Homo sapiens: one gene and its partner. The protein of the gene in region 2 purifies or fractionates together with the protein of the main gene of each other region. This does not show direct contact. Each region holds a gene or a part of one and is shown on either strand. Other genes may lie near its edges.

The links. Proteins that work in one complex are often made in the same cells at the same time.
Region 1: the proteins of HOXD11 (region 2) and PRKD1 purify together in Homo sapiens (affinity purification with mass spectrometry; one large-scale study listed by BioGRID and IntAct). This does not show direct contact.

What each region holds. Positions count from the first base shown.
Region 1 is NC_000014.9:29,599,348-29,602,847, reverse strand, and holds part of PRKD1 (serine/threonine-protein kinase D1), read left to right. Parts: intron 1-3,030; coding exon 3,031-3,192; intron 3,193-3,500.
Region 2 is NC_000002.12:176,105,063-176,110,795, forward strand, and holds HOXD11 (homeobox protein Hox-D11), read left to right. Parts: upstream 1-2,217; 5' UTR 2,218-2,293; coding exon 2,294-3,074; intron 3,075-3,844; coding exon 3,845-4,080; 3' UTR 4,081-4,692; downstream 4,693-5,733. UniProt on the Homo sapiens protein: Sequence-specific transcription factor which is part of a developmental regulatory system that provides cells with specific positional identities on the anterior-posterior axis.

The DNA.
Region 1 (3,500 bases), on a different chromosome or scaffold from region 2:
GAAATAAACATGTATTAAAGTTCTACCCTCTGTACAGGGGCACCTCAGGTCATGTTGTGGAGTAGGAAAAAGGAATAAATTGAGTGAAGGACTTTAGTACCTCTAAGAACTCATGTACTGGCCAGGTGCAGTGGCTCATGCCTGTAATCCCAGCACTTTGGGAGGCCAAGGTGGGCGGATCACTTCAAGTCAGGAGTTAGACACCATCCTGACCAACATGGAGAAACCCCATCTCTACAAAACATACAAAATTAGCCAGGCATGGTGGTGCATGCCTGTAATCCCAGCTACCCGGGAGGCTGAGGCAGGAGAATCGCTTGGACCTGGGAGGCAGAGGTTGTGGTGAGCCGAGATTTGCCATTGCACTCCAACCTGGGCAATAAGAGTGAAACTCCGTCAAAACAAAAAAAAAAAAAAAAAGAGGAATACAGGTAGAGGCACATAAGGATTCATATCATTCAGATAATTTAGGTAGGAGGACTCCCCAGTCATTGCGTCTCTCCCCTCTTCTCCAACTTTCAGAATCTAAGATCAGCAGAAGCAGCAGGCTGTGCAGCTCCAATACTACTCCCGTGACCCCTGCCCTCCCTGGGCCCCCGAGGTCACTCTCCCTTAACGCTTATCTCTTGTTCCTACTAGTTTTTCGTCTGCCTACACACAGAGGACACCTACCCTTCCTGTCTACTTCTGTTGCTCTGCTCCTTTCTGATTCATTGCTTCTGCTTCCCACCCGTACTGCAAAGCTTAGCCATTTAAGGAAGCCAGACTCCCCAGAACACTGCTTAAGTGCTTACAGTTATATTAAATAGAAAAATAAAAGAATCAATGAAGATGCTCAAAGAGGAACGTGTACTTTGCACATATCATAGTGGACTTGTCCTAGGAGAATCAGAACTCTAGCCGAACTCATGTAATCCTTAAAGCTCGTGCTGTGATTATTGATTAAAAGAGAACAGCTGAGACCTTTGACACTTCAGAGGCCAGTGGTCTGTGCAGTCAGTCTGGCTTCTCTAACAGGGAAAGGCATGTAAGGAAAAGGAAATGAGACAGCCTGGGACACAAGTTCAAGTATGAACAATACTATCACATGTTCCATAGTGCCTATCAAACAAGTGTATGTCGTCATATTAGTCGCCTCCTTAGCCTCTGGCCCTCCCATAATACTCAAAGCCATCTGGCTATCTGCTCTTATTTGCAAGTAATCAGGAAAAGTAAAGTAAGAGGGTTGATAATATGAGCTTTGTGAACCCCAACTATCTCCATGTGCTTCAGCTCTGACCAGGAGAGAGCAACGTGGGAGGTGAGGTCTATTCGAAGTTGCCAGACTTGACCAGTTAACAGTGCAACGGTTTGAAGAACAATGACTCTAGCCCTTTAGAGGTTAAAGGCTATTGGGTAGATGTGTAGGCGTCTGCTCAGATCACATTCATAATAAACTTGCAATTCCATGACTCCATTATGCTGTATGATTTGACCCAAGGCATCAGAATCAAAGAGACCCATCAGATGCCTGAGGCAGAGATCAAAACAGGCAAAGTAGAAAAAGGACTCTCTAAGAAATGAGTTATCATCATCAGAGCTCCTGGTTCTATATCCAGTTGATGCCAGGCTTTCCTTGCAAATGGGTAGTGAGAGGACAACTACAACAATGTAGACTCACCCACAACCCCTTCTGCTGCTCACCACCCAGCATCCATCTGTGAGGTTTCTGAGCAGTGAGCCATTTGAGGTTTTAAATTTCATTTTACGTACAATTTTATCACTGAGATTTTTTTTTCTAAAATAAAGAAGCATTTAATTTTTTTCTCTCTTCAGCTGTTAGCACATTTAAGTTAGTTCCTGCTTTTTTTGTTTAGGTGGTTTTTGTTCATGATGATTTTTCTTCTCTTGCTCATTGGGATATAAGTGGAATATATAATTTTTTTTTAATGTTAGGATTTGTTGTTGTGCAGAGAAAAAAGGTAAAGGTCAAATGATCAAAGGCATTTGTTGATGACCCAGAAGAACGTTCAGATTTAAGCATTATTACAAGAGATCGTCTAATGCTAAGCGTAATTTTACTTGACATGTGGCAATTAATGTGTCAAGCAAAATGCTGCTTACCATTACTAGTCATTACTTTATTGTGGAAAGACAGCAGTCCCTTGGTATCCGCATGGGATTTGTTCCAGAACCACCGCACCACATATCAAAATCCACGCATACTTACATCCCACATTTGGCTCTGCAGAACTTCCCTCTAGGAAAAGTTGGTCCTCCTCATCCTCAGGTTTTTGGATCCGGTGAACACGGTATTTTCAATACTCACTTGGTTGTGGATGCAGAACCCACAGATACCAAGGGCCAACTGTACTTATCGAAAAATATCCACATGTAAGTGGACCCACACAGTTCAAATTTGTGTTTCTCAAGGATTAGCTATATTTATTGCGTGCTTGAAAACCAAGCAGGTAGGATGGTATTGTAGACAAAGCACAGGCTCACTTTTTTTTTGTTGCTATTTTTATGATCTTCACTTAGTATAAGAGTTTCTGTCAAAAACTGCAGCCTCCAGTACCAGTAGCAAAGCATTTCTAAAAGGTTTTGACTAAGGTACTTAATCAGTGCATGGCCCGATGCACTACATGTATGAATTTCATCTTTACTACATTAGATTTCTACCAATTGTATATAAATAGCCTAGTATGCTTAGTTAGGACAATATGTTTAATATTGGGGATGATCCTAAGAAATTATAGATTTCTCAATATGGTATTCTAATTAAAACCTAATTAGCAATTCACTGTGCTAGAACTTGGATTTTTTTCACATAGAAATAATTTCACTACGCATAGAAAGTAAAGATGTATTTTTTGGAGACATTAGAATTTCAAAAATATAAGGCAGCACATGTGGAATGTAGAGGTGTTAAAAATCTTAAGTGTGGGTTTCTCTATAGCTCTAAGCTTGAACAGTTTTGTATAATCAGCGAGCTTGCCAAACAGTATCAAAAAACTCATTTTCTTCAAGTGCTTTATTTATCTTTAATAGAACCTTCATCACCCTGGTGTTGTAAATTTGGAGTGTATGTTTGAGACGCCTGAAAGAGTGTTTGTTGTTATGGAAAAACTCCATGGAGACATGCTGGAAATGATCTTGTCAAGTGAAAAGGGCAGGTTGCCAGAGCACATAACGAAGTTTTTAATTACTCAGGTAAGAAATCAATTAGAGACGGAAAAAATACAATATTTAATATCAAATGTTATCACTGTTTAACTACAGCTTTCTAGCCTTGTTGTTTAGTCCCTACCTCCAGTCTAAACTACACTAGAAAAGGTTGTAGTGGCTTTATTGTATTATGTGATTTATATCTATATTAATCAGAGTCCACAGTGTACCAAATTAGTAACATGTTTGCAGGTCCATGTATTCAAACTTTTCATGAAATTTTAAAATGTACATTGGTTTAGTTTTGGTTCTTTGAGAATATTTAAGAATGGGTGTCCCTGTTAGATATAGGT
Region 2 (5,733 bases):
GAAGTCCTCGCAGCTGCCCTGGGTCCTGAGCTACCGCAGGGCCAGTGTGCAGCGTCCAGGGAGCCATTTTAGGAGAGAGATCCAGGGGCGTCGACCACGAGCCCGAAAGGGAGAGGCTTGGGCCTGGGATGGAGATGGGGAGGCAGATAAGTGTGCTGGGGGTCTGGGTTGAGGAGAAGAATGTCAGCTGGAATCTGGGCGGGGGTGCCAGCTGCGGGGAGGGAGCACACAAGATGGGCAGTTCTAGTTGGGGGAGGCTCGATGCCCTCCAGTCGCCACAGACCTATTTGCGCAGTGTTGGGGGAGGGAAGAAGACATGGGAAGGGGCGGAGGAAGGAGAGAGGAAGGGAGAAAGGGAGGGAGGAGAAAAAGAGGAAGGGGGGGTACATCAGCCAGAAAATAGATATTAGCTCAGACCACCCGCCTTTTCTCTGTCTGTCCGCACGGTGGGCAGAGCGCACAGCACCGGCACTGCAGCAGCCCGGGCCAGGGAGGGAACCAGCATCACAGCCAGCGCCGCCTGCCCTGGGTATAGGACTGAGGCCCAGGCCCCAGCGCTGGGATTGCCTGGGCGGAGGAATCTTGGGGAAAGGGGCAGCCTCCTGCCCTCGGTTCTGGGATTTGGGTTTGGGAAGAGACGGTTTACCTTTGAAAAGCGTCTGCTCACTCGGAGGTGGGATCCCAGGCCTTGCCTGGACCCATGGGCTAGGAGAGGGTCGCGGCAGGCTGGGAGGAGAGTGAGGCCTTGGGGGAGTGGATGGGGTGCCCCACGAAGAGTCTGCCTCAGAGCCAGGTGACACAGAGGGGCTCCAGGAGGGAGTCAGGCTCCGCTGAGAGCCCTTAGAGAGACAACCTATCTTGGGGGAGGGGCTGAAGTGACCATGCAGACCCAAGGGTACCAGAAGAGCCTCGGGGAAACGCGGCGTGGATTCGCAGGCCTTGGCGGGGCTCCGAAGCAGTGAAGGGTCTAGGTATAAGGCGGACACCCAGGCTAGGCCTGAAAGCAGAGGGGTGAGGAGGACGAAGGTGCGAGTGTGTGGGGGTTGTCTCTTGTGGGGAGCCAGCGGGAAGCCAAGCACCCTAAGAGTAGGACTCCAGATCCTTTTGTTCACCAGACTCCCCAGATTCTAGGGAGGCTGGGGACCACGGGCTGAGCCCCCTCCTGGCTTCAGTGCTGAAGGAGAAGGCAGAGAGGCAACGGGGAGAGAGACAGAGACAGTGACACACAGCTTAGAGGAAAGGAGGGGAGAGGATGAGAGGACAGAGAGAGAGAGGAGAAGGGAGACAGGAAAGCAAGAGGAAGGAAGAAGGAAAGCGGAAAAGAAGAGGAAGGAGAGAAGTGAAGACAGGAGAGAGAAGGGAGAAGACTGAAGAGAAACGAGGCAAGGAGAAAGAGAGACAAGAACAGAGAGGGAAACCAGAGAGAAGGGAAGAGAGCCGGGTGGGCACGAAGGCCCCGGCCTGGGTGAGTGCCTAGGTGGTGAATGGCCTGGGTTTTTCCGAGGCCAGCACTCGCACCCTTGGGGTCAGAACCGGAAAGAGCCAAGTCACTCCACTCTGAACGCGCTGGGCAGAAAAATATGTAAATCAGGGCTCCCTGCGCCCTGGAGAGTGGCGAAATTACTCCCGCCCGGTGAACAAGAAGCAACAAGCTCCCAGGCGGGTGAGCTGCAGAGGGTGGCAGAGTCGCGGGGGAGGGAGCGGCTGCAGTAAGGGGGGTGGGGTTCGGAACCTCACACCCTCACACCTAGTTCCTAGCTTCTAGGGAGCCTGGAGCCGGGGCTTCCCCCCCTCTGCTCGCTGCTTCTCTCCCTTCCCCCTTCCTCCCCCTCTTCCCCCTCCTTCCTCCTCCCCGCCGGCCTCGGTCCGCGTACTTAAAGCGGCGCGGGAGGGCGGACGCGGGCGGGCGGCCCGTTCGGGCGGTGGCAGATGCGCCCAGCGGTGACAGCGGCCAGCGGCGCGCAGGTGACCGGCCTGAGGCGCAGCCTGGTCAGGGAGCGCCCGGGGAGAGCTGGCGGCAGAGGGCAGCCGATCCGCCCCCAGCGCGCGCGTCTCGGCGCCAGGAGCCGTCCCGGGGCGTGTTGGCGAGCGTTGATATAGATATAAGGACATTTCTCTTCATGGCGTCACGTGACATAATTACCACCAGAATCAATCAAGATGAATTGCACGTCAGCGCCCGGTGGGGATTTTTGCTTAGTTGATCCTGGCCCAAGCCTCTTGTGCAATCGATGGCTCAGGTTGGCTGCGCGGGGAGCGGCCAGAGGCTCGCTGGCGCGCACGCCGCGGAGTCATGAACGACTTTGACGAGTGCGGCCAGAGCGCAGCCAGCATGTACCTGCCGGGCTGCGCCTACTATGTGGCCCCGTCTGACTTCGCTAGCAAGCCTTCGTTCCTTTCCCAACCGTCGTCCTGCCAGATGACTTTCCCCTACTCTTCCAACCTGGCTCCGCACGTCCAGCCCGTGCGCGAAGTGGCCTTCCGCGACTACGGCCTGGAGCGCGCCAAGTGGCCGTACCGCGGCGGCGGCGGCGGCGGCAGCGCGGGGGGCGGCAGCAGCGGGGGCGGCCCCGGCGGGGGCGGCGGCGGCGCGGGGGGCTACGCTCCCTACTACGCGGCGGCGGCGGCGGCGGCTGCGGCGGCCGCGGCGGCCGAGGAGGCGGCCATGCAACGCGAGCTTCTCCCGCCCGCGGGCCGCCGGCCGGACGTGCTCTTCAAGGCGCCTGAGCCGGTGTGCGCTGCGCCGGGGCCGCCGCACGGCCCCGCGGGCGCCGCCTCCAACTTCTACAGCGCGGTGGGCCGCAATGGCATCTTGCCACAGGGCTTCGACCAGTTCTACGAGGCAGCGCCCGGGCCCCCGTTCGCCGGGCCGCAGCCCCCGCCGCCACCCGCGCCGCCACAGCCCGAGGGCGCAGCCGACAAGGGCGACCCCAGGACCGGGGCTGGTGGCGGCGGGGGCAGTCCCTGCACCAAGGCGACCCCTGGCTCGGAGCCCAAGGGGGCAGCAGAAGGCAGCGGTGGCGACGGCGAGGGCCCCCCGGGAGAGGCGGGGGCCGAGAAGAGCAGCAGCGCAGGTAGGCACCGGGTACTGGGCAAGCGGTGGGCCCGGGGGCCGCGGGGGAGGGGGGGGGGGCGGAGGCCTCCCTCTGCTTGCGCCTTTTTATGTGCTACTTTATAAGCATTCGAAGAGGTTTATACATCCTATAAGATTTCCTGGGCCGTTGTAAAGTGTGTTTATGGTAGGAAACCAATTTAGGTGGGCTTAAGGTAGACTTCGAGGAGGACATTAATAGCTGTCGAGAGCCTTTTCCCAGTTTTGGGCAGGGGGTTGCTAGATACCATGGAGGGAGGGAGGGAGGGAGATTTCAAGCCAGTGTGAGTGCATACACCGGAGCCTCCTGCTTTTAAGGGAGAGAGGCGGGGGGTGGGGAAGTGGGGGGAGTTTGATCCTTGCACTGGACTTTATCCAAGCCGCTAGCTGACGCGCGCCGCTGGAGTCAAGCAGATGCCCCGGCGGGCCTGCTCTTGTCTCTGTTCCCTCAGGTTCCAGTTTAGAGCCTGCCTTGCCCTCTGCTTCCCCACCTCCGTGCCAGGCTCTGTGTGTGTGTGTGTGTGTGTGTGTGTGTGTGTGTGTGTCCGGGCGTGAACACATGTCCACGCCCGCACTCTCTCCTGTGCCCGCCCATATATCATCCCCCACGACGCAGGCAGGGCCTTTCGGCCGCGGCAGAGAACGTCCCCAACGGGGCCAGGGCCTGGCCCTCGCTCAGTGGCCCGGGCGGGCGGGCGGGTGGGGGCTGTCAGGCAGCGGCCTCTCTCACCCCCTGGTCTCTTTGCCTTGCAGTTGCCCCCCAGCGGTCCCGGAAAAAGCGCTGTCCCTATACCAAGTACCAGATCCGCGAACTGGAACGCGAGTTTTTCTTTAACGTGTACATAAACAAAGAGAAAAGACTTCAACTCTCTCGGATGCTCAACCTCACTGACCGGCAAGTCAAAATCTGGTTCCAGAATCGCAGGATGAAAGAAAAGAAACTGAACAGAGACCGTCTGCAGTATTTCACTGGAAACCCCTTATTTTGAGAGCTCCAGGAAGCGCCCTCACCCCAGCCCCACTCACCCACCCTCCTTCCCACCAGCCTGCTCTCCGCAGGCCCACTGTCCTTGGGTTTAATGACGTCTCTTCTCTGTGGAACTTCACGATTCCTTCCCACGGTCAACTCGGGACCTCCCAGCGACCACTGCAGCCTGCGGACGAGGCCGGGACTTGGCCGAGCGGATCCTAATAAGGGGAAAATGGTAAATGCAAACGTCCCGTTACAATTTTACCGCCAGTGTGCTGTCGTTCCCCCTCCCCCTCTCCGAGTCCTCGTGGGGACACGGCGGGGTCTGTAGGAAGTTGGGCCGGGTTGGGGGTTGCTAGAAGGCGCTGGTGTTTTGCTCTGAGTTTTAAGAGATCCCTTCCTTCCTCTTCGGTGAATGCAGGTTATTTAAACTTTGGGAAATGTACTTTTAGTCTGTCATATCAAGGCATGAGTCACTGTCTTTTTTTGTGTGAATAAATGGTTTCTAGTAAAATGGAGGTTACAGCTTCAATACACTGTATGAATTCTCCTCTTTGAGGTTTAGTGCCTCCTTAGGATATTTTAGTGGCCAGAACCCATGCAACTGAAAATCGAATGAAATACTTTTTAGTCCCACTAAAATAGTAGTCGTACCCTCCCACCACCTCTAGGTTACACTGGTTTTAAAAATCATGTTAGTGATGAATTTCTGAATTGACGATGTGACCAAGCAATGCTGGCGCTGCCTTCTCCAGGCAGTAAGGCTGGGGCAGCAGGAACCTAAGAAGAAAACTCCCACCCCCACCACTAGTCTAGTGAACTTGGGATTTCTGAAAAGACAGCAACCATTTTTAAAAACTGGTTAGAAAATCCAAATGATCTCTTACAAGCTAACAAGGAGTCACAGTCCCTTAAAAAAGAAGAAACCAAAATTAGAAACTTCCATTGAAGGGAGAAGTTTTCGAAAAGGAAGTCATCAGTAGGTGGAGAGGGCTTGCTGGTGTCATAAGTGGACCTGGAGTAGGGAAGGTAAACCCTCCCCGCCCCCACTGAAATAGGGCCAGGAGCTGCAGACCCTCTCACGGCATTTATCGCTTCAAGTTAAAGAATGTGGTGAGGGCTCTACTGCACTTTATGTTGCAGGGCCAGGCCAGGCTGTTTACAAAACCTTGAACTGTCTAGACAACACCATAAAAGCCAAAGTTCTAAACAGCTTAATTGGGTTATATTATACACCTTCTGGTGGGCCCAAAAGAGATTTCCGCAATGTGCAATAAACTGGAGAAGTGAGAAAAGCTCTCTCTCTGAAAAGAGTGAAGTGAATCTTATGAGTCTTAACCTCTCCTAAGCCCAAAGACAAAATATAAATCTATAAATGCACAGTACCCCATGCATCTTCCAAGGAGTCATGCACTTCAAAATGCAATTAAAAAAATTGCTAAGCCTTATTTGGGAAGGAAAAAATAAGTGCATAAATGTATGCCTTTGAACTTCCAAAATGTCAAGGTCATCACCTTTAACCTTTCTGAATAATTAGGCGCCTTAAGTTCTTCTTGATTTTCAGCTGCCACCCACTCTCACACATACATGCTCACACATATAGAGAGCCACACACACATTTATGACCACACAAAATCATACCAGGAGCTCACCATAAATCTAAGAAAATTCC